Linked DNA regions of Homo sapiens: regions 1, 2, 4, 5, 6 and 7 are each linked to region 3. A link means that fine-mapping ties the variant in region 3 to the plasma level of a protein whose gene starts in the linked region. Region 3 holds a variant in brackets. A gene starts in each other region. All regions are shown on their forward strands. Region 1 holds the start of RRM2 (ribonucleotide reductase regulatory subunit M2). Region 2 holds the start of CD274 (CD274 molecule). Region 3 overlaps LINC02356 (long intergenic non-protein coding RNA 2356). Region 4 holds the start of DAG1 (dystroglycan 1). Region 5 holds the start of SLAMF7 (SLAM family member 7). Region 6 holds the start of PLXNB3 (plexin B3). Region 7 holds the start of TIGIT (T cell immunoreceptor with Ig and ITIM domains).

Evidence for each region. A credible set is the group of variants that fine-mapping cannot tell apart. PIP is the posterior inclusion probability: the model's chance that the variant is causal. Protein levels are from antibody-based Olink assays in UK Biobank. Linkage for the fine-mapping came from a reference panel and not from the study's own genotypes, which makes the PIPs less certain.
Region 1: it holds the start of RRM2, and the variant in region 3 is the best candidate, but not a certain one, in a credible set for the plasma level of the RRM2 protein (UK Biobank, PIP 0.55).
Region 2: it holds the start of CD274, and the variant in region 3 is the best candidate, but not a certain one, in a credible set for the plasma level of the CD274 protein (UK Biobank, PIP 0.50).
Region 4: it holds the start of DAG1, and the variant in region 3 is the best candidate, but not a certain one, in a credible set for the plasma level of the DAG1 protein (UK Biobank, PIP 0.51).
Region 5: it holds the start of SLAMF7, and the variant in region 3 is the best candidate, but not a certain one, in a credible set for the plasma level of the SLAMF7 protein (UK Biobank, PIP 0.77).
Region 6: it holds the start of PLXNB3, and the variant in region 3 is the best candidate, but not a certain one, in a credible set for the plasma level of the PLXNB3 protein (UK Biobank, PIP 0.56).
Region 7: TIGIT starts here. The variant in region 3 is the best candidate, but not a certain one, in a credible set for the plasma level of the TIGIT protein (UK Biobank, PIP 0.51).

What each region holds. Positions count from the first base shown.
Region 1 is chr2:10,121,155-10,125,219 of GRCh38, forward strand. It overlaps RRM2 (ribonucleotide reductase regulatory subunit M2), which reads left to right and starts at 1,585. Exons shown (of 10, transcript NM_001034.4): 1 at 1,585-1,743; 2 at 1,829-1,903; 3 at 2,233-2,376; 4 at 2,582-2,698; 5 at 3,563-3,696. The coding sequence starts at 1,645. RefSeq lists enhancers at 1-258, 307-862, 620-689, 710-819 and silencers at 1,040-1,639, 1,046-1,546.
Region 2 is chr9:5,448,437-5,452,501 of GRCh38, forward strand. CD274 (CD274 molecule) reads left to right here and starts at 2,106. Exons shown (of 7, transcript NM_014143.4): 1 at 2,106-2,160. RefSeq lists enhancers at 1,883-1,932, 2,223-2,382.
Region 3 is chr12:111,387,119-111,391,183 of GRCh38, forward strand. The region is part of intron 2 of LINC02356 (long intergenic non-protein coding RNA 2356); the gene reads left to right. Among named protein-coding and RNA genes, the nearest start is that of SH2B3, 17 kb to the right of the region's middle. The variant A/AAATT (reference allele first, on the strand shown) is at 1,555.
Region 4 is chr3:49,469,262-49,473,317 of GRCh38, forward strand. It overlaps DAG1 (dystroglycan 1), which reads left to right and starts at 1,006. Exons shown (of 3, transcript NM_004393.6): 1 at 1,006-1,172. RefSeq lists a silencer at 685-1,424.
Region 5 is chr1:160,736,795-160,740,859 of GRCh38, forward strand. It overlaps SLAMF7 (SLAM family member 7), which reads left to right and starts at 2,453. Exons shown (of 7, transcript NM_021181.5): 1 at 2,453-2,562. The coding sequence starts at 2,508. LOC124904440 (a long non-coding RNA gene) reads right to left here and starts at 2,365. Exons shown (of 2, transcript XR_007066687.1): 1 at 2,289-2,365.
Region 6 is chrX:153,761,979-153,766,030 of GRCh38, forward strand. It overlaps PLXNB3 (plexin B3), which reads left to right and starts at 2,271. Exons shown (of 36, transcript NM_005393.3): 1 at 2,271-2,326; 2 at 3,493-3,602. The coding sequence starts at 3,558. PLXNB3-AS1 (PLXNB3 antisense RNA 1) reads right to left here. Exons shown (of 3, transcript NR_199696.1): 2 at 1,732-1,871.
Region 7 is chr3:114,291,602-114,295,654 of GRCh38, forward strand. TIGIT (T cell immunoreceptor with Ig and ITIM domains) reads left to right here and starts at 2,427. Exons shown (of 4, transcript NM_173799.4): 1 at 2,427-2,521; 2 at 3,944-4,053. The coding sequence starts at 2,461. RefSeq lists an enhancer at 1-625.

The sequences.
Region 1 (4,065 bases), not on the chromosome of region 3:
GCTTTGTGTAAGGAATGTGATGGGCACTTATTCCTGCAACACGAGAATACTATGATTTACAAGTCCGTAGTACTTTTAAGAAATGAGAGAAACAGACCTAGGTGGGGAGGGTACCTGTCCCACCCCACCCTCTTTAAAGTATCTTATCTAGAAAAGGCTTTGTGAAAAAAAAAGTCCCGGGTCTCTCTCAATAACAGCCCTGAGCGCAGCTGTTGAAGCTTTCTCAGGTTAATGATTTCTTTCTTGGATCTTAAAGTTTCTTTCTCTTCCTTTATTTTTGGCATTTTGCCCGTTGCAGGGCCTGGCAAATCAGAAAGCCACATAGAAAATTAAATGAAAGCTATTGCTAAGTTCCAGTCTCTACACCAGTGGAGTTTTCAAACTCCTCTTCAGCATATTTGACGCCCAATGAGTAGTACATTAATTCCTAGTCCTAAAATCATTCTGTGAACTTTCTCCCAGGAATTTTTGCTCAGTTTGCAATTAAAACAACTTTTTTTCTTCTCTTTTTAATGGCAGAGGCGGGGTCTCACTATGTTGCCCAGGATGGTCTCCAGCTCCTGGCCTCAAACAATCCTCCTGCCTTGGCCTCCCAAAGTGCTGGGATTACAGGCGTGAGCCACCGCGCCCAGCCACAGTTTGCAATTCTTAAGGCAAGGGTGACAATAGGGGTCAGGGGTCTGACAGGAGACAGGATTTCTGTGGAAAACTGCACCAAGGGCCTTCTCGCCATGTCCCGTAGTTTGAAGGTTTACAAAGGACTGCACATTTTACATGAGTCATCTCAACGAACGCTCTCCTCACCGCATTAACAGTCCACGCGGTTACGAGTCCCATTTTACTCACGGGGACACCGAATCTGTAAGAAGCCTGGTCGCTTGTCCCAGCAAAACGAGCCACGGGGCTCAGCGGCCCTAACTTTTAGGCTGTAGGGTCCTCGCCGACCACCCCGCCAAAATGTCAGGCCTCGGGGCCCTTGCACCCCCACCGCAGGGACACGGATCGAAAGGGTCGCAGCAACGCCTCCCCCGCACCCAGGAGCGTTTTCCAGGCCTTTGCACCAACCTCGTTGGCTAAGCCCCCTGCCCGGCGGCGGCCCGGCTGGGAGGAGGTGCTTTCGGGAGGCGGGGCCGCGGCCCGGGGATCCTCTCGCGCCCGCGGGCTCCAATCGCTGCTCCTCACGCAATCCTAAACGGTTCCCGGGCGAACCGGGGCCCGCGCGCGCCAAGGCCGCCGAGACCCTCAGGGGCTGCGGCCCTGGTCCCGCGGGACCTGTGGGGGCCTGGGCGGCGGCGCCCCCGACCCAGCCAGCGGACGGGCCGGGGGGGGAACCGGGAGGTCCCGGGGGGCGTCCACGGGGGTGTCCCCGGGGGTCTCCGGAAGGCGCCGGCGGAGGCTCCCGCGCTGCGCTTGAAAATCGCGCGCGGCCCCGCGGCCAGCCTGGGTAGGGGCAAGGCGCAGCCAATGGGAAGGGTCGGAGGCATGGCACAGCCAATGGGAAGGGCCGGGGCACCAAAGCCAATGGGAAGGGCCGGGAGCGCGCGGCGCGGGAGATTTAAAGGCTGCTGGAGTGAGGGGTCGCCCGTGCACCCTGTCCCAGCCGTCCTGTCCTGGCTGCTCGCTCTGCTTCGCTGCGCCTCCACTATGCTCTCCCTCCGTGTCCCGCTCGCGCCCATCACGGACCCGCAGCAGCTGCAGCTCTCGCCGCTGAAGGGGCTCAGCTTGGTCGACAAGGAGAACACGGTGAGCCCGCGGGGAGGGCGCTGCGGGCAGGGGAGGGAGGCAGGGAAAGCGAAGCCGCTCCTCACTCACACGCGTCTCCCCGCAGCCGCCGGCCCTGAGCGGGACCCGCGTCCTGGCCAGCAAGACCGCGAGGAGGATCTTCCAGGAGCCCACGGAGCCGGTGAGTGGCGGGCGTGGGGCAGAGGGGCCAGGGACGGCCTTGGGCGTCTTGGCGCCAAAGCCGCATTGTTTCCTCAGCTGTTCACACTCCCGCCCCGGCTCCTTTCCCGCCTAGGCGGCCCCTCCCCAGGGCTGCCTCCCGCGCCCCTCGGCCCATTTCCCGGTTCGGGCGTGCGCTCCTCTGCTGCGACCCACGGAGTGCGACGGGACAGCCACGTTTTCACATCGGGCCCCGTGAAATTGCCGCCAATGGAAAGGACTTGGTCCAGAAAAACGTTAGTTTCATATGGTTCGCCCGGTACTTAAATGTTTTATTTTCTCCCCCAACAGAAAACTAAAGCAGCTGCCCCCGGCGTGGAGGATGAGCCGCTGCTGAGAGAAAACCCCCGCCGCTTTGTCATCTTCCCCATCGAGTACCATGATATCTGGCAGATGTATAAGAAGGCAGAGGCTTCCTTTTGGACCGCCGAGGAGGTAATCGGAGGACCCCAGAAGACCCCTGCAGGGGTGACCGTCACGCCTCAGACATAAATGCACTTGGAGGTTCCCGTTGGCAAGGGGGGCTAACTGTGGGGCATAGTAAGTGGTGCCAGCATACTTAAAGTTTGAGTGCTCAGTGTGAGTCCTGTAGGCTTTACTCTCTTCCTTTTATGCTAAAATTGTGACTTCCGAACCTCAGGTGGACCTCTCCAAGGACATTCAGCACTGGGAATCCCTGAAACCCGAGGAGAGATATTTTATATCCCATGTTCTGGCTTTCTTTGCAGCAAGCGATGGCATAGTAAATGAAAACTTGGTGAGTTTCCAAAACATCTTTCATTCATTTGACGTTGACGATCTGAGGTCGAACTAGTTCGCTTTCCTCGTCTTGTATGTTTTTCCATGCTGAGTGCATCTGTGTGTGTAAGCTGGGTTTTATATTACATGGCATTTCCTGTTTTGTAACACTTTGCAGTTCTTTCTTATGGTATTTTCCCGACTCTAGAGAAGCTGAGACAATATTAAGTGGTAGCAATGTGATGACTCTTTGTGGCCACCACATCTGCCCCCTCTTTTTTTTTTTTTTTTTGAGACAGAGTCTCACTCTGGCCCAGGCTGGAGTGCAGTGGTGTGATCTTGGCTCACTGCAACCTCCGCCTCCTGGGTTCAAGCGATTCCCCAACCTCAGCCTCATGAGTACCTGGGATTACAGACGTGCGCCACCATGCCTAGCTAATATCTGTATTTTTAGTAGAGACAGGGTTTTACCATGTTGGCCAGGCTGGTCTCGAACTGCTGACCTCAGGTGATCCACCCACCTTGGCCTCCCAAAGTGTTGGGATTACAGGCGTGAGCCACCACGCCCGGCTCTGCTCCCTCCTTTTTGTGGCTTTGCTGTTTTAATAATAATTTGGTTGTATCTCTTATTGCGAATGGATCTTTCTTGACATAAATTAATTAGGAAATCGAGCGCTCACAAATCCTATTTTATATGTATCTATTTCCTGATATGTAAGTTGAGCATATGACATAAAATATCAAAGAATTGTGACAAATTGGATGAAATATATATAGAAATAAACCTTATAATGGTACAAAGAGTGCGATGCTGCCAGTATCCGTTGACAGTTGCTGCTGTTGGTTTTTTCTCAAGCTTAACTTTGATGTGTTTTGCCACTAGGTGGAGCGATTTAGCCAAGAAGTTCAGATTACAGAAGCCCGCTGTTTCTATGGCTTCCAAATTGCCATGGAAAACATACATTCTGAAATGTATAGTCTTCTTATTGACACTTACATAAAAGATCCCAAAGAAAGGTGAGTATTCAAGTGGTATGCCAAGATTTTTAGGACTCACTAATTGTTGATTTATTACACATTTTTAGTTCACCTAGGGATAAAAATGACTCCAGAATGACTAAGACAGTCATAGGCATTCCCAGCACCCGTGGTCATGTCTGCTCTTAGCAAGGGGCCTAAATGCACTTTATTATTCACTTAGAGTTGTGAAGGTACTCCTTTTAAAGTTGGATGTCTACCAATGTAAAACCTTCTTTTGAAAAAATTCCTAGATGTTGGGTAAGACAAACTAAAACCTATGTCTGACCATCTTTGCTCATTTGGTAAAGTTGTTGAGAAGCTAGAATGTGGGGCTGCAGTGGGATGGACGGGGAGGACTTGCCTCCT
Region 2 (4,065 bases), not on the chromosome of region 3:
CCATCTATTTCGTCCAAATAAAAAAATTCACACAGAGTTTCAGGACTTAACCCCCCACTCATTAACCATCTGTTTTGCTTTACATATTTTTCTGAGGTAATAAAATTTCTCTTTTTCTAAACACAGCCTGTTTTTCAATCTCCGGGTAGTTGATCAATTGTATGGGAAAATGAATGGCTGAAGGGTAGAAACAGGTGGGAAAGATGAACAAAAACACGAATCCTCACATTACTAATACGCAAATCACTGAGCAGCAAGCTGAGCAAATACCCTCAATTCCCATCAGCAACTTTAGAGAAAGGCAAATTCCGTTTGCCTCATTGATCATTTAGGTAGACCCTGAACACTGCTTTCATAAAACAAAAACAAAATACCCATCCCCAGTTTAAAAAATTATTCATAGATCATCCAGGCCATCTAGGAGGATATGATTTAATCCTGGCTACTTGGTAAATTATTTGCCCAAGTTAACTCAGCTAGTTAGTGGTAGATGGCTCTGAAGCCAGTTGTTTTTTTTTGTTTTGTTTTTTGCAGACCTCAAGAGTCATGATGAACTAGCAGATCATAAAGTTTATGCCCTGGGTCTTGACCATTTTTAGAAAAATAAAACATTAAATGAAAATATCAGAGGGCATTGCAGATAGTAGATCTAAGTATTTTTTCATGAAACTTGTTGTACATGTGTGTGTCATACACAGACTATATATATGCAGTACCTGTAAACTGTATTGCCACATAATGTCTATATTTTCCTAGAGGTCACAGTCACCAAAGTTGGGAAGTCACCCAACTTCGGGAACTTTGGGAAGTCACCCAAACTTACAGTCACCAAAATTGCTCTATTCTACTATGTGACCTCAAAAGTGATTTGAAAGAAGGAACATCTGAGCTGGGCCCAAACCCTATTGCAATTTTATTGGGGCCAAAGAGAACTCCATGCTCCTGCCAAATCAAGGCAGTGTCAGCCTCAATAATTTCCCAGATAAAAATAAAAATCTGTGATACAATCAGAATGTGAAAATTCTTATTTTGGAAGCAAATGTCATAACCAATGCAAGGGCTATCTCAATATTCATTCATTATGCAGTATTTTGAACTGCAGTTGAAATGAATAAGAAGGAAAGGCAAACAACGAAGAGTCCAATTTCTCAATTTAGAAAAAGAGAAAAAAAAGAAAAGGGAGCACACAGGCACGGTGGCTCAAGCCTGTAATATCAGCACTTTGGCGGATCACTTGAGGTCAAGGAGTTCGAGAAAAGAGAGCACCTAGAAGTTCAGCGCGGGATAATACTTAAGTAAATTATGACACCATCGTCTGTCATCTTGGGCCCATTCACTAACCCAAAGCTTTCAAAAGGGCTTTCTTAACCCTCACCTAGAATAGGCTTCCGCAGCCTTAATCCTTAGGGTGGCAGAATATCAGGGACCCTGAGCATTCTTAAAAGATGTAGCTCGGGATGGGAAGTTCTTTTAATGACAAAGCAAATGAAGTTTCATTATGTCGAGGAACTTTGAGGAAGTCACAGAATCCACGATTTAAAAATATATTTCCTATTATACACCCATACACACACACACACACCTACTTTCTAGAATAAAAACCAAAGCCATATGGGTCTGCTGCTGACTTTTTATATGTTGTAGAGTTATATCAAGTTATGTCAAGATGTTCAGTCACCTTGAAGAGGCTTTTATCAGAAAGGGGGACGCCTTTCTGATAAAGGTTAAGGGGTAACCTTAAGCTCTTACCCCTCTGAAGGTAAAATCAAGGTGCGTTCAGATGTTGGCTTGTTGTAAATTTCTTTTTTTATTAATAACATACTAAATGTGGATTTGCTTTAATCTTCGAAACTCTTCCCGGTGAAAATCTCATTTACAAGAAAACTGGACTGACATGTTTCACTTTCTGTTTCATTTCTATACACAGCTTTATTCCTAGGACACCAACACTAGATACCTAAACTGAAAGCTTCCGCCGATTTCACCGAAGGTCAGGAAAGTCCAACGCCCGGCAAACTGGATTTGCTGCCTTGGGCAGAGGTGGGCGGGACCCCGCCTCCGGGCCTGGCGCAACGCTGAGCAGCTGGCGCGTCCCGCGCGGCCCCAGTTCTGCGCAGCTTCCCGAGGCTCCGCACCAGCCGCGCTTCTGTCCGCCTGCAGGTAGGGAGCGTTGTTCCTCCGCGGGTGCCCACGGCCCAGTATCTCTGGCTAGCTCGCTGGGCACTTTAGGACGGAGGGTCTCTACACCCTTTCTTTGGGATGGAGAGAGGAGAAGGGAAAGGGAACGCGATGGTCTAGGGGGCAGTAGAGCCAATTACCTGTTGGGGTTAATAAGAACAGGCAATGCATCTGGCCTTCCTCCAGGCGCGATTCAGTTTTGCTCTAAAAATAATTTATACCTCTAAAAATAAATAAGATAGGTAGTATAGGATAGGTAGTCATTCTTATGCGACTGTGTGTTCAGAATATAGCTCTGATGCTAGGCTGGAGGTCTGGACACGGGTCCAAGTCCACCGCCAGCTGCTTGCTAGTAACATGACTTGTGTAAGTTATCCCAGCTGCAGCATCTAAGTAAGTCTCTTCCTGCGCTAAGCAGGTCCAGGATCCCTGAACGGAATTTATTTGCTCTGTCCATTCTGAGAACCCAAAGGAGTCCTAAAAGAGGAATGGAGGAGCCTAAGAATAAAAATAGTATAATAAAACATTTCTTAGACACATTGACCTTGGCCTATGTCAAAGTTCAGTCTGGGTTTGTCTTATAACACAAGGAGTAAAAGTACCATTGTTCTACCTCTTTTTTTAATACTTGAAAAAAATTTACTGTGGATGCTTTTCTATGAATTAAATAACCTTCTAAAAAATGTTTTCATTGCTGCATTCGATTAGATTGGGTAACTAAATGAAATTAATTCCTCACTGTTGGGTATAAAGGTTATTTACAGTGGTTCTGTCTTAGCCATTCACTGAACTCATTGCATATATATCTCTGGAATATTGCTGATTGTTTCCTTCAAGTAAACTTAGAAGTGTAACTACTTAGTCAAAGAGCCTGAATATTTTAAAGGCCTTTTGAAGAAAACTGAAAATGCTTTCCAGAAAGGATGTATCAGTTGACAATGACAGTCGTCAACAGTATTTAAGGAGAACTATGATACTCTGAAGAAAAACTTAGCCTTTCTCAGTAAAAGTAGGTAGGCAGAGGCCACATGACAGCAGTTAGAGTGTGGTCTTCAAGGAAGTCACAGAAATACTGTGGGGAATTGAAACCCCATGTGGAAAATGTACAAGAGTGTCTCAGTGTGACTGAGAAGGAGGTTGGGCATGGGGTTTCATGGAGTTTAATAAAGTTTGGTCACTTAGTAGAGGTTTAATAAATCAACTGTCTTAATCTTTGATCCTACTTAAGAATTTTTTTTTTGTTTTTGTAGAGATGGGGCTCTTGTTATGTTGCCCAGGCTGTTCTCGAACTCCTAGCCTCAGGCGATCCTCCCTCCTCAGGCTCCAGAAGTCCTGGGATTACTGGCGGGAGCCACCATGCAGGCCTCTTGCTCCTACTTTTGAGAAAGGAAGTTTAACCGGTTTTTTTTGTCTTTTTTTTTTTTTTTTTGAGACAGAGTCTCACTCTGTTGCCCATGCTGGAGTGCAGTGGTGCAATCTCAGCTCACTGCCTCCCGGGTTCAAGTGATTCTCCTGCCTCAGCCTCCCGAGTAGCTGGGACTACAGGCACCTGCCACCACGCCCAGCTAATTTTTGTATTTTTAGTAGAAATGGGGTTTCACCATATTGGCCAGGCTGATCTCGAACTCCTGACCTCAGGTGATCCGCCTGCCTCGGCCTCCCAAAGTGCTGGGATTACAGGCATGAGCCACTGCTCCTGGCTGCTTAACTTTTTCTCTATCTCATCCTCCTACCCATCCTACCCTTGGAAGATAGAGAAGTAGTATTAGTTCCATAGTGTTATACTGGGCTTCCCCCAGGGACAAACCCACTTCCCCAACCTGAATGAGCCATCACTTCTTCCCCAGTTTACATTTCATTGCTCTTTAAATGTCTCCATTCGGATAT
Region 3 (4,065 bases):
GTTTCTTTGTGACTGGCTTTGTCTCTTAGCATCGTGGTTTTGAGGCTCATCCCATTGTGGCATGTATCAGTCCTTCTTCTTTTCTATGGCTGAATCATGTTCCCTTGTATGGATACCCTAATTTTTTTTTTTTTTTTGAGACAAGATCTCATTTTGTTCCCCAGGTTGGAGTGCAGTGGCACAATCATGGCACACTGCAGCCTCAACCTCCTGGACTCAAGCAATCCTCCCACCTCCGCTTCCTGAGTAGCTGGGACTACAGGTGCATGCCACCACTCCAGGCAATTTTTTTGTTTGTATTTTTTGTAGAGACAGGGTCTCACTATGTTGCCCAGGCTGGTCTCGAACTGAACTACTGACCTCAAGTGATCCACCCACCTTGGCCTCTCAAAGTGCTGGAATTACAGGTGTGAGCCACTGCAACTGGCCAGATATGCCACCTTTGGTTTATCCATCCATCCATCCATTGAGGACCGCAGGGTGTCTCCGTTTGGGCTACTGTGAACACCCAGGCATCTTTGTGGCTGGGAACAGGAGAGGTGTGGAGAGCAGACAGTGAGTCAGAAGAACTAAAAAGGGAAATTTGGGAACTAGAACTGGGCTTTGGCCACCGAGATCAAGTCCTGATTTTACCTCCAAACCGTGTCTTGAATCCATCACTTCTCCATCTCTGCCACCACTTCCCCATCCCAGGCCACCACTATCTCTCCCCAGGTCGGTTACTGCAGCCTCCCTTCCGGCCTCCCTTCTGCCACTCCCAACTCCCTCATCCCCAGGGTTCATTCTCCACTGAGCAGCCGAGGGATCCTCTTAGAACTTTCATGAAATCAAGTCATGGCACCCTCTTGCCCAAAGCCTTTCCATGGCTCCCCATGGCCTTGGGAGCAAGTCCAGACTCCATCCCATGGGTGACAAGGCCCTCCTTATCCTGGCTGCTGGCTACCCCTCAAGCCTCTTCACACATGGTTTACTCTCCTCACGCTTCGCTGCAGCTGCCTGGCCTCCCTCTCTTCCCAGAGTGCGCCAGGCTCCAGGCCCTTGCATGTGCTGGTCCCCTTCCCAGGAGGCTTCCTCCTTCACTCAGCCACCCCTCATCCTTTAAGTGTTCACTCAGCCATTGCCTCTTCCAGGAAGGTCTGTGACCCCAACCCTTCCCCTCCCGCTAAGTCAGAGGCCTTCGCTGCTTCCCATTAGCCATTCTTTCAACCAGTATTTACTGGGCACTGCTTTGTCCCAGGCACCAGGGATAGAAGTTAAAAAGACAGGCAATGGCCAGGCACAGTGGCTCACACCTGTAATCCCAGCACTTTGGGAGGCCAAAGCAGGCGGATCATTTGAGGTCAGAAGTTTGAGACCAGCCTGGCCAACATGGCGAAACCCCATCTCTACTAAAAATATAAAGGTAGCCGGGCATGGTGGTGCTTGCCTGTAATTCCGGGGTTCTCAGGAGGCTGAGGTGGAAGAATCACTTGAACCTAGGAGGCAGAGGTTGCAGTGAGCTGAGATCATGACACTCCACACCAGCCTGGGTGACAGAACAAGACTCTATCAAAA[A/AAATT]AATTAAACAATTAATTAAATGGTTAGTTTTGCAGGGCATGGTGGTTCACACCTGTACACTGGGCTTTTTTTTTTTTTTTTTTTGGAGTCCCACTATTCAGAGGCTGAGGCAGGAGGATCACTTGAGCCTGGGAGGCCGAGGCTACAGTGAGCCATGATCCTGCCACCACCACACTCCAGCCTAGGTGACAGAGCAAGACTCTGTCTCTAAATAAATAAATAAATAAATAAAATGGTTAGTTTTGCTGGGCGCAGTGGCTCACACCTGTAGTCCCAGCCTCTTGGGAGGCTAAGGCAGAAGAATCACTTGAGCCCAGGAGTTCAAGACAATCCTGGGCAACATAGCAAGATTCCATCTCTATGTAAAAAAAAAAAAAAATAGTTTTATGTTATAGGAACTTCACCTCATTTAACTTATTATTTTTTTAAAGACAGACAAGACAAGTGCCCCTGCCCTTCCTGACCAGAGGGGAAAATAAGTAAATAACATTCGTACAGTCCATGAATTGAAGTTAAGAGCCCAGGAGAAAAATAAGCAGGGCAAGAGGATATGAATTGTTCATGAGGATGGGTTGCAGGGCTTGTCATTTTACTAGGAGGGGACCGAGGAAGGCCTCCTTGAGAAGGCAGCCTTTGAGCAAAGACCTGAAGGAAATAAGGGCACAAACCATGCAGATGGCCAGGGAACAGCGTTGTTGGCAGAGGGAACAGCACATGCAGAGGCCCGCAGGCAGGAGGCCATGTGGCTGCAGCAGAGAGGAGGGGAGAGGAGAGATGACATCATGGAGGCCTGTGGGCTTTTCTCAGGAGGTTGGGAAGATGTGGCAGGACCCACAAAGGAAATGAGAAGATACAGCCAGTGACATAGGAGAAAAACCAGGAGAAGCCAATTGCAGGTCACGTATCTGGGCTTGATAACTATGGATGTACCCTTGGCGGGCTTCTCCCCACATTGGAAGGCAGGTCCAGGAAGGCAGGGGGTTTGGTCTGCCTTGTTCACCGCTGTGTCTCAGCACCTGGCAGTGCCCAGGACATAGCAGGTGCTTGGTGACGAGGATATGAGTCAGTGGCTGACCTGGTGTCCCCTGGCCCCGCTGTTTGGCATCCAGATCTCAGTCTCTGGACTGATGGCAGTGATGCCCCTCTTCACCTAGCCACCAGCAGGGGCAGATGGTGGTCCAGGTGGGATCTGAGGCGGAGCTTCCTTCCACCATGGCCACCCCACCCAAGAAGTGGGCTGAGCCAGCCACCCACAAGAGGGAACCGAAATCATCCTCCACCACAAACACGCTGGCCTGGCTCCACACTGGGCAGGACATGGAGGAAGGGGGAGCGATAGTGAGGGCCAGAGTCCCTCCACTTCAAGGGTCCCCTTCCCCTGGTATATACATGGGAAAAAGGAGACACCAGCCAAGGGCTGGGTTGCTGTGTGTGAGTGAATTTTGCTGAAGTCCCAAAGACCTGGAAGGTCCTGCCGGCTCATCCCCTGCCTCAAGTGCAGGGGTTTTTGTTGTTGTTGTTGTTTTAATTTTTTTTTATTTTTTTATTTTTTTGAGACAGAGTCTCACTCTGTCACCAAGCTGAAGTGCCGTGGCATGATCTCAGCTCACTGCAACCTCTTCCTCCCGGGTTCAAGTGATTCTCATGCCTCAGCCTCCCGAGTAGCTGGGATTACAGGTGTGCACCACATAGCCTGACTAATTTTTTTTGTATTTTTAGTAGAGACAAGGTTTCGCCATATTGCCCAAGTTGGTCTCAAACTCCTGAGCTCAGGCAATCTGCCCACCTCGGCCTCCCAAAGTGCTGGGATTACAGGTGTGAGCCACCACACCTGGCAAGTGCAGGATTTATGAGTCCTGCTTTAAAAGGTGGCACATGAGACATGGTGGCTCTCACCTGTAATCCCAGCAGTTTGGGAGGCTGAGGCGGGAGGAATGCTTCAGGCCAGGAATTCAAGACTAGCCAGGGCAATATAGCAAGACTCCCTCTCTACAAAAAATAAAAATAAAAATTAGCTGGCCGTGGTGGCATTCACCTGTACTCCCAGTTACTTGGGGGACTGAGGCAGGAAGATCACTCAAGCCTGGAAGGTCGAGGCTGCGGTGAGTGATCACGCCACTGCATTCCAGGCTGGGCGACAGAGCAAGACCCTGCCTCAAACAAACAAACAAAAAAAGCTGGCATTGGCAACTTCTCCCTTTATCCTTTTGTCCCTCCTTTAAGGGAGCCTCTCATTTCCCCCCAGACCCCTGCCACAGACACCCAAATTCCTGGACATTTTCTCCCAAGGGGCAATTTCAATTTCTAAATTTCACCTGCTCAAAGCAACGAAGAGGTATTGCCTGGGGCCGGGGCTGTGTTTATTTGACATGGTGCCTCACTGTGAATCCTCAACCCAAAGCTCCGAGATGGTGAGTGAGGCACCAGTGTTCTCACAGGAAGAGGCAGAGCGGGTGCTAGCCTACTGGTCACCAAAGCTGGTGTTCCTTTTTTTTTTTTTTTTTTTAGACA
Region 4 (4,056 bases), not on the chromosome of region 3:
AGGAGGGAATGGACCCATCCTGCGCATGGTGTGGGGATGAGAAGCAGAGCCCACCACGGGTCTCATTCCCAGACCCATCCGGTAACTGTCAGTTTCAGTAACTGTGAAGTCTGGGGCTTTTGGGGTGGGGGGCTGCAGGTTAAGTCCTGGGGAGAGCTAGAGCTACCTTAGGACCCTCCCCTTGAATGTTCCAGGCAGCAACCCCCCTCTCTTATTTCTTCCCCCACCAAAAGAATGCAGGCCACTAGGAGTGAGTGACCAGCGCCTGCGAGTTAGAGCTATTTTGGGCAGGAGAGCAGGCGTCGGATTCCAGTGTTCCAGGCAGGGGGAGGGGACGAGGGTTAGGCCTGAGGCGCTTTCCGACTCCCCAGCCTGCTGTGGGCGAGGCTCTAGGAGATGAGCTAGCTTCCCGCTCCTCCTGTCCCTGGCCTCAGTCTCCCATCCGTGTAAGGGCCGGGCAGCAAGGCTTTCATCCTTTGCAATTGAGAGAACGCTTCCTGATTGTTCTCATGGCTTAGAAATACCCCTTGATTTGCATTCGAAGGAAATAAGGAGGGCTGAACGCAGTCGACGGGTGGCCAGTTGCTGGGCCAGTTCGCAGTCCTGACTGTCCCTTGATTAGTCTTAGAGGCCCAAAGGCCTGAAGTTGGGCGGGGAGCCCCTCCCCCACACTACTGGTTCTGAAGGCTCCGAGTGACCGGGACCGACCGCCGGGGTGTGTCCCGGGACGGACTTCCCTGGCCGTGGGGGCGAGGCTTCCATAATGGGGCGTGACTTTTAGGGCGGGGGAGTGGCTAGCCAATGAGCAGAGAGGTGCTGGCCGGGGCGGGGCTTGCGCGCGGGTGCGGCGCGCTGCGGAGCGGCCGACGCAGGCAGAAGCCGGCGGCGCGCGGACAGCCAGTCGGCGCCGCGCGGAGCTGGCCGCTGGATTGGCTGCAACACTCGCGTGTCAGGCGGTTGCTAGGCTCCGGCCGCGCGCCCCGCCCTTGCGCTCAGCGCCCTCTCACCGCCCGGTACGTGCTCGCGCGAAGGCTGCGGCGCGGCGCTCGCGCCTCTTAGGCTTGGCGGTGGCGGCGGCGGCAGCTTCGCGCCGAATCCCCGGGGAGCGGCGGTGGCGGCGTCCTGGGGCCAGGAGGAGCGAACACCTGCCGCGGTCCTCCCGCCGGCGCTGGGTGAGTGCACCGCCCGCCCTATCCGCTGTGCCTGGCTGCTTGGGCCCCCATCCCTGCTGCCGGCTGAGCCTTCCGCGGAACACCTGCTGCTGCTCGCTGTTCGGCCCGGGGCGGGGACACGGCCGCGGACGTCCTTGTGGGTGAGGAGGCGGTGCCGCCCGGGCGGAGCCGCCCCTTTGCTCTGGGTCCCGCAGGCAAAGGCTCGGAGCGTTCGGCTGCAAGGCCCGGGCCGCGCGCCGCGGCGATGGGCCAGGCCTTAGCTCGGCCCGCGCTCCCGGGAACGTGGAGCCTGCGCCTTGGCCGCGGTCGTGAGCCGCCTGCGGGCCGCCTCCCTGGCTTCCAATAGGGGTTGTGGCCCAGTTGGGCCGGATTCCGACTGTGGGGAGTCGAGCCCCGCTAGAGGCAGGGAAGGGCACCGCTGCCGCCACTGCTCTGTCAGAGCTGCTCAGAGCCTTGGTGGGTTCCGTCATCCTTACTTGAGCTCCTTTGGAAGCTTGTTTACTTACTACCTTTTCACTTTGTATTTGGCAGACCTGGTTCACCTGCGAGTGTATTTGGATAGTGTCTCCACAGAAAATGTCGTCTCGGCTTGGAATCTTTTTGCCATAAATTCTAAGTTAGTTTCCTACAAACTCAACTGGTAACTTAAAATGCATCCTTTAATCTCTATAACTTGAAAAGTTCTTATTTTTGTAAATCGAGTTGCTTCAGAATTAGTTTTAATGGTGACGATGAAGTTTTGACTGGTTGAGGCAAGAGCCTGGGACAGCACCTTCATAGCGCAGAGTCTAACTTAAGATTCTAGCCTGCTGCTTCCCTAAATAAGCGAGTAGAAGTGACTCCTGGCATAGAAGCCAGACTCCGTGAAGGGAAGGTGGTGTTTATAGGACATAATTCCAGATAAAGAGCTGGATGTGCTTTCAGGTGTTTTGCAAAGTCTGGTGTAGATGGGGTATTGCAGTTTTATCAGGTTCTATGCTTAGTTAAGTTCAGAGACATTATTTTGGAATGTTCCTGTTCTAAAAAAGAATTCAACCGTACTACATTTTGGAGGCATAAAAATCCATAGTTTGAGTATGGAGAAGTTTAGTTGAACTTTTGTGGGTTTTTTTTGCTGTGAACTAAGGAAGAAGAGCTCATGGCCTGTGTCCTGTATTTTGGAGAAATCAGATTTCAGTAGGGAGTTGGATCCATCATGTGAAGACCCTATGGGATATAAAAGCTTGTGCTGACATGTGCTTTTGTTAAAAGAGGCACAGTGCAAATCCTCACTGTTCTTAAAAATTGATTTTGCAAAATGCATTTATTCATTTGAACAAATATTTTGATTCACTACCTGCCAAATTCTGTGGTAGATCCTAGGGACCCATGTAAAAGAGTCTGCTTCTGCCCTTAAGGAATTCAGTTTAGGGGGCAGTGGGGACCAGGGAACCCATGATTAATAGTGTCTGCCCGCTAAGCGTGCTCACATAGTAGCCTGAGGAGAGAGGGAATTCCTGAGCTGTGGTTTTCAGGGCCAGCAGGAATTAGTGGGGGACATCAAGGCCTGGACACAGGGAACCACATGTACATGAGCACCTAAAATAGTGCTTGGGAGTCCTCCAGCTTGGCAGGTGCGAGCTCTGGGCCTGCCTTGTGCTCAGGAGTTCCAACTTTGTATGCGGGGTGCAGGAGTCTGGGGAGCCTTTTAATCAGTAGAGTGGTGTGACCCAGACCTGTGTTTAGAAAGATATTGCTGGTGGAGTGGCAGGAAGAGGGAGGGGGTCAGGACCTCTGGCAGTTAAGTCAGCTAACAGAGGAGAGGTGGGGAGGGAGAAGGAGCCATCAGAAAAGAGAGACTGAAAAGGTAGTACAGAGGGGATGTCCTGCCATGATGGGGGAGGAGCTACATTCTGGAATGCATGGGCCAGAAGACCAAGCATAACCAAGGATTTAAATTCCTTGTTGACTACCTGGTATAGTGACCTACAGAGTTGCTTGTGTCTGGTTAGTGTTGAGGATGGTGGGATTTGGAGGGACCACTTAGGGACCACTTAGACTGCCGTCGATGCATAGGAAAGGAGGCCTGGCATTTGATTATTAAAAACTTTATCGCCGGGCATGGTGGCTCCCACCTGTAATCCCAGCAGTTTGGGAGGCCGAGGCGGGCGGATCACGAGGTCAGGAGATCGAGATCATCCTGGCTAACACGGTGAAACCCCCTCTCTACTAAAAATACAAAAAATTAGCCGGGCGTGGTGGTGGGCACCTGTAGTCCCAGCTACTCAGGAGGCTGAGGCAGGAGAATGGCGTGAACCCGGGAGGCGGAGCTTGCAGTGAGTTGAGATAGAGCCACTGCACTCCAGCCTGGGCCACAGATCGAGACTCCGTCTCAAAAACAAAACAAAAAACAACTTTATCTCCAGGCAGGGCGTGGTGGCTCACGCCTGTAATCCCAGCACTTTGGGATTCTGAGGCAGGTGGATTACCTGAGGTCAGGAGTTCAGGACCAGCCTGGCCGACATGGTGAAACCCCGTCTCTACTAAAAAATACAAAAATTAGCCAGGCATGGTGGCGGGCGCCTTTAATCGCAGCTACTCGGGAGGCTGAGACAGGAGAATCGCTTGAACCCGGGAGGCGGAGGTTGCAGTGAGCTGAAAGCCTGGGTGACAAGAGCAAAACTCGGTCTCAAAAAAAATAAAAAATAAAACAAAACAACTGGCCAGGCGCGGTGGCTCACGCCCGTAATCCCAGCACTTTGGGAGGCTGAGGCGGGTGGATCACGAGGTCAGGAGATCAAGACCATCCTGGCTAACACGGTGAAACCCTGTCTCTACTAAAAATACAAAAAATTAGCCAGGTGGGGTGGCGGGCGCCTGTAGTCCCAGCTACTCATTCTCCTGG
Region 5 (4,065 bases), not on the chromosome of region 3:
TAGAAAATACCCAATCTGAAAACAGAGTGAAAATAGGCCAAAAAAAAAAAAAAAAAAAAAAAAAAATGGAGCCTCAGAGCCCTGTGGGAGAAAAACAAAAGATTTATAACATTCATGTCATCAGAATTTTAGGAGAGAAGCGAGAATGTGAGGCTGAAAAAAAAGTATTCAAAAAATAATGAAATTTCCCCAAACTTAGCAAAAGGTAAAAACCTACAGATTCAAGAGACTCAATGAATCACAAATAAGAGAAACCCAAAGAAATTCACACCAAGACACATTATAATCACACTTCTGAAAACTAAAGACAAACAAAAAACTTTTAAAACAGCTAGAGAAAAATGACACATTACCTACAGGGAAAACAACTTAAATGACGGCTGATTTCTCACTGGAAACCATGGAGGGGAGGAGTGTCATGACACTTTTCAAGTGTTGAAAGAAAAAAAACTGTCAACCTAGAATTTTATACCCAGGAATGAGGGTTAAATCAAGACATTCTCAGGTGAAGGAAAACTAAGATAATTTGTTATCAGCAGGCTTATCATAAAAGAATTCCTAAAGAATATCTTGAAACAGAAAGAAATGATTAAAGAAGAAAACTTGAAGGCTGGGTGTGGTGGCTCATACCTGTAATCCCAGCACTTTGGGAGGCCAAAGTTGGTGGATCACCTGAGGTCAGGAGTTTGAGACTAGCCTGGCCAACATGGCGAAACCTGATCTCTACTAAAAGTACAAAAAGTAGGTGGGCATGGTGGCATGAGCCTGTAGTCCCAGCTACTCAGGAGGCTGAGGCAGGAGAATCGCTTGAACCCAGGAGGCGGAGATTGCAGTGAGCCAAGATCATGCCACTACACTCCAGCCTGTATGACAGAGCAAGACTTCGTCCAAAAAAAAATAAAAAGAAGGAAACTTGAAACATTAGAAATAAAGAAATAACAATGAAAAGAGTTAAAATATGGGTAAATGTAATGGATTGTCCTTCTCCTCTTGAGTGTTCTGAATTATGTTCAACAATTGAAGCAAAACTTATAATCTTACCGATATGGTTCTCAATGAATATAGACAATATATTTAAGACAAGTATAAAGATAGACTAATAAAGAAACCTAATATAGGTAAGTTTTCTATACCTAGTTCAACTGGTAAAATGTCAACACTGATAGGTAGATCAAAAGTTATGTATGTAAAATGCAATATGTACAGCAACCAGTAAAAAAACTCTTCAAAAAGATACATTATAGATAAATCAAAATGGAATTATAAAAAATATTCCAGTAACACACAGGATGGCCAGGAAAGTGAAACAGAGGAACAAAATAAACAAACAAAAGCCCAGAAGAACAAAGAGAAAATAATAACATGGCAAACTTAAGCTCTGATATATAAATAATTACATTATGTAAGTCAGTTAAATAGAATAGATAGCTCCAGAATATACCCACACAAGTATAAGTGCTGATTTTTGATAAAGATACAAAAGTAATTCAATGTAGGAAAGATCATCTTTTCCATCACATGGTAGTAGAACAATTGAACACCCACAGGCAGAAGAAAAAAAAACACGCACATTGTAATCATACTTCTGAAAACCAAAGGCAAACAAAAAACTTTTAAAACAGCTAGAGAAAAATGACACATTACCTATAGGGAAAACAATTTAAATGATGGCTGATTTCTCACTGGAAACCATGGAGGGGAGGAGTGTCATGACACTTTTCAAGTGTCGAAAGCAAAAAAAAACTGTCAACCATATTACCTGATATGGTTCTCAATGAATATAGACAATATATTTAGGTGAATCTCAACCTAAACTTCACACCTTACATTAAAACAGGATCATACATTTAAATGTAAAACATAAAACTATAAAACTTTCAGGAGAAAACCTTTGGACCCTAGTGTGGGTAGAAAAAAAACTGATAAGTTGAATTTCATCAAAATTAAAATTTTTGCTCTGCCAAAGACCCCGTTAAGAAGATGAAAAGACAGGCTACAGACCAAGAGAAAATATTTGTAAACCACATATCTGACAAATGACTCTTATACTTGGAACATATAAGGAATTGTCAAAGCTCAACAGTAAAAAAAATAAAGAATCTGATTATAAAATGGACAAAAGACATAAATAGACATTTCACCAAGGAGGATATGGATATATAGATGGCAAATAAGCACATGAAAAGATGTTCAACATTATTAGGCTTTAGGGAAATGCAAATTAAAGCCACAATGAGGTATCACTACAGCACCTATTAAAACAGCTAAAATATAAAATGGGAATATACCAAATGCTGATGAAGATGGGGAGCAAATAGATCTCTCATAGATTGCTGGTGGCAAGGTAAAATGCTCTATTCACTCTGAAAATAATTTAGCAATTACTCAATCTCACATGTCTGCGGCGTGACCCCTCCTGCTTCTTTAAATATCAGCTGGGGAAGAGGTCTGAGTAATACCTAAGAGGGAAGTGGCTTCATTTCAGTGGCTGACTTCCAGAGAGCAATATGGCTGGTTCCCCAACATGCCTCACCCTCATCTATATCCTTTGGCAGCTCACAGGTGAGTCCGGCCGGATTCTCTTCCACTCTCCTGTCTACCCCATCCTGAATAGTTCCAGGTTTCTTGTTCCACTCTGGGCCTCTGGCTCAACTCGGGAGGCTCTGTGTTCTCATCTAACATTTGCTTTTTATCAATCTCTGATCTCTGATTCTCAGGTCAGGAAGAGACTAGAGAGAGGGGGAAAAATGGCTCTGGGAACTGACTCCCCTGTTGACTGTCCCAGGGATGAAGGAGCTGAAAGAAGTGGTGCTGGGTATCAGAGACCATTTTTCTAATCCAGGTTCTGCCATGAGTTAGATAAGGAATGTTAAAGTTTTCCTGGGCCTCAGAAACTTTATCTTCTAGCCTTCTCTCCTTTTGAGGGCAACTTTAAGAACAAGATGATACTATACAGGTATGTATTTATTTACTTATAAATGTATTTATAAAATTGGTTATGCATAACAGTAATATAAATGGAAAGAATCACTTGAATTTTCTTTCCTTACTCAAGCAATGTAATCAGTCTCTACTTAGAGAACCAACTCATACCATAGGCACTTTATGTTTAATCCCATGGAGGACAGAGGACAGTTCTCCACCTGTCACTGGTATTCTAGTCTTTGAAGATTTTTCTATCCTAAGGGCTCTCAGAAAGGATCAGGAGCCCTATAAGTGAGAAATATCTCTTCTGTCATCAATCTCATGGAGTACTACCATGAGGTCCCCCTATAAGGACTTCACATAACTGCTTCATTATGTGTATCTGAGCCTGCCTGGAGTGATCTGCCCAAGACCACGCAGGCAGCTGGTGCCCCCAATATTTTCCCCTGCATCGCTAAGTGGTCAGCATCAGCAGACTCTTACCCACTTTGAATTCATCAGAAGTTTGTATTTTTGAGAGGTACCTGGGTCTAACCAGGTGGTTCTGGAATAGGCCCTCACTTTAAAAAAAAAAAACAAAAAAAAAACTCCCTGAACGGAAATGATGAGCAGAAATAGAACTTGAGGGAGATAAGGTGGAGGGGTTGGGGAAAATTATAGAGACTTTGAAAGCTACAGGTGTCCATCTGAAATCAGTCAGCGAAAGAGCACAAGTATGAAAAACTGCCATGCAGGTCCCCCTCTGCCCTCCTCCAGAGGCAGCCTGTGTAGTGTACCTCCTGAGGCTGAAAGGAGACAGAGATTGTCCTGGAACTTCCAGTGGGCAGGGCAGTGGAACAAATCCTGGCACTGGACAAGCGCATCCTTGGTTTGACTTAGTAGCTGTATTATTGTAGGCAAATTACTCTTCCCTTCTGAGCCTTGCTCTTCTCAGGTGTGTAACAGAGAATGAAATCTAAGTTGCAGAATTATTGTGACATTTTAAATGACATATCAAATGCAAAATAATTATTAAAATAATCACCATTTATTAAGTTACTACATCGCAGGTGTTTTTCATACCACCTCCTCATGAGTCTGTAAGACAGATATCATTATCCCTGTTTTACAGTTGAGGAAACTTAGGCTCAGCAGAGAGAT
Region 6 (4,052 bases), not on the chromosome of region 3:
AGTGGCAGTGGGGGTGTCCGCTGGGATGCCAGCATGGAGAGCTACGTCTTCAGCCCAGCAAACGTGAAGCCCACGTCCCACTGACCCAACGAGTCCCCTTCCAGCATTGAGAAGCCTGGCACACAGCAAGGAGACGACACCAGATCAGTTGACGCTGCCTTCCCATCCCTTGGTGAGGGGACCCGGCCATTGCAGGATAAATCCAGCACGACTCCCCTGACATAAGATGTTCCGGTTCCCCAAACCAGCCTAGATCCTTTCTGGTTACACCAGCTTCAGACCAGGGGCTGCCATAGCCACGCCTCTTATCTGCTCAGAAAGCGTAGAAGGTGCATATGCAGGCCATATACACACATATTTATGAAAATGGTGCTGCCTGTGGATGGATTTATTTTCTTTTTTCTTTCTTTCTTTTCTTTTTTTTTTAAAGACAGAGTCTTGCACTGTCACCCAGGCTAGAGTGCAATGGCACCATCACGGCTCACTGCAGGCACCAACTCCCAGGCTCAGGCGATCCTCCCACTTCAGCCTCCCAAGTAGCTGGGACTACAGGCTCGCACCACCATGCCTGGCTAATTTTTAAATTTTTTTATAGAGATGGGGGTCTCACTATGTTGCCCATGCTGGTCTAGAACTCCTGGGCCCAAGTGATCCTGCTGCCTTAGGCTCCCAAAGTGCTGGGATTACAGGCGGGAGCCACGACGCCCAGCCTGATTTATTTTCTTCTGTGGAAAGGAAGGAGAAACCCATTCCCCATGCCAGATTGCAGGCGTCTGTCTCATCCGGGGCCAGCAAGGACATGTGTGTGTGTGTTGGGGTAGGCATGGGGGGAAGGACAGGGAGAGGGAGAGAGGCCAGCTGGCTCCCCCAAGCCTCCCCTCCTGGAGCTTCTAAATCCCTCCCTGGCTCCTTCAAGGCTGCCTGGCCTTCCTGTTGGGGAGAGACCCCTCGCCGGCTGCTCACTCGCTTTTTGGTGGTCCTTCCCACGGGCCTGCCTGGTCTGCCTCCACATCCTCAGCGGCTGCAGGTGAGAAGCTGTGGATCTGGGGCCCAGTGGTCCAGAGCGTGGCCCGTGCCAGAATGCCCAGGTTCAAATCCCATCTCTGTGGAATGCACTCTGAAGAAACGACGTCAGGTCATGGCCCTGGGCAAGTTACCCACCTCTGTGCCCCATTTCTCTCCATGCAGGTTGGAAAGAATGACACAGCTGCTCAGGGAAGCACCCATACCCCGAGTCTGCTGGGCCTTTGAGCTCCAGGGCCAACACCTGGCCCTATACCCTGGCCGCCCCCAGGGCTCCAGCCACCTGAGCCAAGCTTCTCACCCCCAGGCCTCCCCAGCCCCATCACCATTTCCTCCTCCCTCATGGGCCCCTCAGTCTTACCGTCCTCCCACTTCCGCCAGCCCCTCTGTGGATGGCCCTGCCACAGGGGGAACAGTGCCCCAGCAGAAAAGCCCCAGGGTCGCCTGGATTCTCCTGCCTTCGCCTCCTGCCCTGGGTCCAACGCACAGTCTTCAGAATGCTGCCTCCCCAGAGCGCCTCTAGAACGCGCCCGCCTCTCTCCATGCCCATGACCACCACTGGACCAGGCCTCCCCACATTCTCTGCCCCAGTGCCACCAGCTTGCAGTTGCCCATGGCGAGACAAGTTCAAGTTCTCAAGCCTGGCCACAAAGACCCCACCTGATTTGCTGACCTCCGCCACACCCTGGGAGACGGCCCTTGACCAACCTTGTGTTCCAGTCGGTGGGAAACACTGGTTTTTCCTCAACGCCACGTGGGCATGTCACGTCCAGGCCTGGCCTGGGGTAGGCCTCAGCTCCATCTCCTGCCCAACGCCTGCCAAGGTTCATGGTTCAAGGTCATGTAGCCTGACGGTTAAGTGAAGGGGCCCTGTGATTGACTCAGCCTTGCCACATACTAGCTGTGTGACTTTATTCAAGTTTCCTAACCTCCTGTGCCTCAGTTTCCCAACCTGTGTTTGTTTCTGGATGGTGCCAGTGCCAAGCCCAAGCCTGGCATCCAGTAGGTGCTTCGTGCCAGGTTATGGAATGCCCACCCAATAGGAGGGCGCTGCCGTCTCTCACCTGCCAGGTGCCCACGGTCAGTACTCCATCATGCCCGCTGCGGCCAGCAGAGGGCAGCAACATCCTGCCCTGTGCCATTGGGCAAAGGGGCGGGCGGAGAGAGGCTGGGCTGCCTGGCCGGGCTTGTTGGGATGAGTCGGACTGGGCACGATTGCATTGTGGGGAGGGAGGCTGGGGCTCTGTGAGACGTGCTCCTGGCACCGCCAGCTGCTACTTGGCCCTCGCCGGTGGCCCACCAGGTAGGCAAGAGCTGGGGCAGGCTTGGGCTTGGGCTTGGGGTGCAGGGGCTACCAGCCTCAGGGCAAGGCATCAGGGTCTCAGGGCCAACTGGCTGGGGTCAGGCAAGAGCGCTCGGGTGTCGGCCCAGCCTGACGACGGCACTAGGTGTCTGGGAGCACGGTGTCCCCCAAGTGGTAGCCCTGGGGTTAGGAGGTGGGGAACCATGTTTCTTCCCCGAAATGGGAAAGCCAACGCCAGCCTCGGGCAGGGTACAGGGTAGAGAGGCTGCCCGCCTGGCTCCCCACCCCCACAGCCACCCAACTGGCCCAGCCAGGTGACAGCAGCCCACTGCCACCTTGCCCTGGAGCCTACTGCTGCCGTGCTGTGGGGGAGGCAGAGACCCCATCCCCAGTGCACCTGCTCCTGTGCCACTGGCCAGGGTGGCCTGTGAGGGTGACAGGGGGTCTAGCTGCTAGGTGCCCCTCCCTTCCCCATCCCCTGCATGGATGGCATCTAGGCCAGCAGGACGGTGCTTCAGAGGGTGGGGTGGACAGCCCCGGCCTGTGGACCCTCTGCCTCAGCCCATCTCAAGCAGCCTCCTCCCGTGGTCCTGCTCGCTGCCACCATGCTGTACCTGGCACCACTTCACCAGTCCCCAGGGGCAGGGCTGGGCTGGGGGTGTGGAGGAAGATCTTTTGGACAAAGGCAGGCATTGAGGGCCAGGACTGGCACTTCACCCAGGCCCCAAGGCTACCAGCCGGCATTTGCAGGGGCTCCAAGGTCCACCCCGTGCCCTTCACAGGGACCCGGGGAGCCAGGGAGGGGCATGCTTAGTGACACAGGGGTTGCAGGGCCAGAGGGGGAGGGCTGGCTGGAGGAAACCCCGGCCCTTTGTCCCCGGATCCCGGGGGTGGCTCCCTGAGGGTGGGAAGTGGCAAGGAGCCCCCTGTCCAGAACAGCCCAGTGGGGGTGACAGCACTAGCGAGTGGGGCCCTGGCCTGGCCTCTGGACAGAGGGAACATTGTTGTGGTGGAGGCAGGGCTGCCTTGGCCTGGCCACTATTGACAAAGCTGCCAGCTGTGAGGGAGCCCGGTCGCTAGGCCCTGGGCGCCACCCCCACCGCCGCCCCTCCTTCCCCAGGCCAGCTCGAATGGGGCTGAGCCTCGACTGTCTCCCTCCCACTCAGGACAATGCCCCCCCGCAGCCATCTCATGCCCATCGCCACTGCCCTGGGGCAGCTGAACTGAGCGTATGTGCCACGCCGCCCAGGAGACCCCTCTGCTGCACCACTTCATGGTAAGTGCCCAGGCCCGGTGTCCCCAGAAATGTTCCTGGGAGGGGCAGGGTAGGGCAGGATGGCTGTGGCCAGGCCCAGGACATACAGGCTGCAGCCTCCCTCATGGCAGACACTGCCCCAGATAGCCCGGGGTCCGCAGGAAGTGTCCGTGCTCTTCCTGCCTGTGTTCCTGAGATAAGCGGCTCCTGGGCCTTCCTCCAGGCGCTGCTCTGCCCTGAGTCGCAGCGGCCCCACTCCTGGTCGGCATGTGACCACACACCCAGGGCAGCATCTCTCTGTGGAGGGCAGGAGGGGCCAGAGAAGGGGCTGCTCCCACCTCTCACCCTCGGGGGCTCACCCCGGGGTCCCACCAGGCACACCCAGGAACCATCTCCAGTCTGGCACCCCTCCCTGCCCCTTCCCTGACCCCTCCCCCAGCCAGCTCTCCTGGTCTGCTCTTCTCCTGGGAC
Region 7 (4,053 bases), not on the chromosome of region 3:
TGGCTGATTTTAGCATTTTTAAAATAGAAATGTGAGTCAGCACCTGATGGACCTCACAGATCCCTGCTATGCCACGAGGGCTGCTGACTGGCCTTAAAAGCTCAGGGTGGCCCGGGGAGCTCTCAGAGCAGGCCTGCTTCTCACAGCTGAGCCGCTCAGTGCTGGGGGCTGGTGTTGAGTGGGTGGGAACCAGCCAGGTTCCCCGTGGAGTCTGTGCAGGAGGCTCTGGAGGGTCTGGGGTAGATTCCCTGGGGAGAGACTTCTGTCATTTGCTTTCCTCCAAGGCAGCCTCAGGGTCTAGCTGGCAAGTGGTCACTTTCCTGCAGAAACATGCTATCCTCCTGTTCTATCAGATAAGGAGGGCAGAATGAAGAGGTTGGGTGGAACCCTGGCCTTGGAGTCTGGAGACTAGGATTTTACTCTTGACAAAGCACATTATATAGATAGGGATATTGTCCTCCAATTTTCCTTTCACTTCCTTAATTAATATTGTTATCAATACTACTGTTGATGTATTGAACTCCTGCCATCTTCCAGGCACTGTGCTGAACACTTCACCAAACACTAGAGAATTAAATCCTCACAACCCTATGAAAGAGGTACTCTTATTCCTATATGCACATGGGGAAACTGAGCCTTCAGGAGGTTGAGAAAGTTTTCCAAGGTCACCAAACAGGATGACTTTGGACCCAGTCTGTTAATCATCCCCCTCTAGAGCACCATTGATCAAAATGGACTTGACCATATTCCTCTTTGGACTGGTTACTTAGCAAAAAACAGAAAAATTATTTAACAATTGTTTAAAACCACCTCTAAGTTTCTCTGGATATCTCATTATATAAGAGAGGTCTCACCTCTTTGGCTCCCACCCAGCTCAACTATGGAAACACAGGCTGTAAATTTTTATAGCCCAAATCCTAGTGTCCACCACTTTCTGTGCTCTAGTCCCACTAGCTGCTCTTGGCCCTGCCACTCCTGGCTCCCCGGCCTTAGTGAGTTTGGGAAACATCCCTCCAGTTCAACCTTGGCACCTTCCCTTGGACACACATTAGGTATTATTTCTCCTTCAGCTGAAGGCTTTGTAGCTATTGAAAGGCAAGGCATCTCTTGATGTGAGCCTTGAAGGACAGGTTGCTTTGGGTAGGCAGAGAGAAGCTGGTAAGGCGTATATTGTCTAAGGGTCTGGAGGTGGGGTATAAGGGGTATACAAGTCATAGAGTTGGGGATAGGCAGAACCCAGAGAGGGGAGAAAACTGGCCTGAGATAGAAGACCTTGCAAGGGAGAAGGAGGGTAGGAGCCTGGATGGTGTGAAATGCTAGAGGTGCATGGCTGGAATGGAGGGGGTGGGGCACCAGGCTTCAGATGCTTCTGGGTGCAGATGCAGATTTTCAGGATGTACAACATGGAGCATCCCCAAGGCAACTGTGTTGAGAGCCTGCGAGGCAGGTGAATGTGGATCTTCTACCCCCTCTCCTGACTGAGTTCACCAAGGAACAAGCTTTGTAAACTATTTGAGGGTAGGGGCTGTGATTATTTACTCTCATATCCTCAGAGCCTGGTGTTGAGGTTGGTGCTTTGTAGGCACCCAGGGACTTTCAAATGAATGAAGGGAGGGAGGGAGGAAAGAAGGATGGGTCCATAGTAGGACCTGGTGATGGGCTGGGAGCTCCAGGCAAATGTCAACCAATCCCTCTCCTGGGTCAGCTCCCAGGGGCTCACCCTTCTTTGCATTTCCAGCTCTCATGAGGTCATTGTGCACAGGAAAGCTCTCTCCTCTAATCTCCTCTGATCCTACTGCACCAGAGAAATCAAGCCAGAATTCAATAAAGTCTCAGTCCAGATAAACAAGACAAAAGAAATAAGATTCGAGTAGAAGATCTCCTTCAAGGGAAAGTTGCTGTGTTTGTCCAAGACCTTTGTCCCATCCATGTATCATCCCCCAAGTAAACACTTCTTGTTCACCTGTTCATTAGATTTCAAGTGCAGTCCCTGGCCTGTAAGTCCCTACAATGATAAGCTTCTCTTATCATTGCACATTCTTCATCAGGAGGATGCCAGAGGAGCTCAGCCAACAGTTCCTCATCAGTAGCAGATTCTTCAGAATCTTGGGCACTACACAGATGCCCTTGAGCTCTTTGAATAAAGGCTGATTTTTAGAAAAAACATTAAGACAGAACTTAAAAACAATAGATTGACTATAATCCAAAGACGAGTGTACCTCTAACCACAATTTTCATTTATTTTTAAATGTTTCCTTCATGGCCTTTCTTGTGGCTCACCCTATGCAGTTTGTGTATTTGTTGACAACTTTATGTGTTTTTAATATGGTTTTTGCCAAACTTGGTTTTTCCGAGACCGTCTTTTCTCAGAGGCTCAGTTTTACCGTCCTATCTGCAGTCGGCTACTTTCAGTGGCAGAAGAGGCCACATCTGCTTCCTGTAGGCCCTCTGGGCAGAAGCATGCGCTGGTGTCTCCTCCTGATCTGGGCCCAGGGGCTGAGGCAGGCTCCCCTCGCCTCAGGTAAGGCCTGAAACCCAGCAGAGCAGCAGGGAGGAAAAACAAGGCTAAGCTTGGTTGGAGACTTGGGTGCTTGTGTAGGGAAGACTCCAAGAGCATGCCACAGCTGCTTGAGAGAAAGAAATTGCAACTTTTAGAGTCCTGTGTACTCTTATTTAAGAAAGGACAATCTCTGAGAATGAGGTGGGGTTCTGTTTTTGGTGGCAGATGAAGGACTTTGCAGACTTCCGGGGTTGGAGGAGCCTGACTGGCCAGCACAAGAAGGAGCAGGAGAAGAAGAAGGGCTGGGCAGGAGGCATTGCCAGTTTGCTTTTAGAAGCTCATTCCTGCTCCAGCTTCTTTTCTGTTGCCTTTCAGGAACTTTCCAGGAAAACATTATAAGTTCTCTGTGAATTGAAAATGTCTTTTTCACAGATTCCAGAGGTTCTACCACTAGAGACTGATTTTTTGTTAAATTTATTTCTTCTATATTAAAAATCAGAGTCAAATATTTCTGAGGGAGGGGAACACAAATATTTAAAAACTGTGGTATAAATTAGTTTTTATGTTGCCTTCTGAACTATCTGAGGATGGAGATGTGCCCAGGGTTGCTGGGGAGAGGTTAAGTGCTGAGAGGGTGGTTATGCCTGGGAGAAGCAGGGTTTCCTGCTAAGCTTCCTTTGCTATTGGATTTCTTGGCTTTCCTGAAGGTTTTTTCAGGCACTGCAAATGACAATCAACCAAACAGCAAGGTTTTATTTCAAAGGATAATGCATCCAGCATAGAACTAGGCCGCAGGAAGAAACATAAAAACAAAACAAAATAAAAACAGAAGAGGTGGTATCAGCTGACAAGGGCTTATATTCTAAGTGGGTAGACAAAATAGGCCTACGAAAATAACAAGCTGGCCATGAAGCTACATAGCAGAATATGCGAGGGGGCAACGTGCTAAGTTGTGTAGTCATAAGCCAGGCATTTAGTAAGGTGCTAATTATACAATACAGGCAGTGAATGTGAAAGGAAAAGGGAGGTTGAGATGGGCTGAGGTCTTCTAGGAGGCGGGGAGGGAGTGCAGCCTTGACAAGCCTCCCTGTGGGCGAGGTGTAAAGAGGGGCAGAAGTCAGCTCTGGAAGCATAGGGCAGTGGGTGGGGAGGAGATGGGCTGGGCTGGGCTGGAGTAGAGATGTGTGGAGAAGGGTGAGAAGACTGGAAAGACAACCTGAATGGGGGACTGGGAGCCTTGAATAACAGGCATGGAGAGGAGCGTCTCTTGAAATGGAAGAAACAGGAAATAATTACAGCCTCTATGGAGGAGCAACAGGATGGACTGGAGAAACTATCATTCCAAAATCCAGTTGGGGCCTCAAAGGCCCTTAGAATTTTTCTAGGAAGGTTGAAGGCCAGCTGCTGACCCAGGACTCACATGTGCTTCGTCCTCTTCCCTAGGAATGATGACAGGCACAATAGAAACAACGGGGAACATTTCTGCAGAGAAAGGTGGCTCTATCATCTTACAATGTCACCTCTCCTCCACCACGGCACAAGTGACCCAGGTC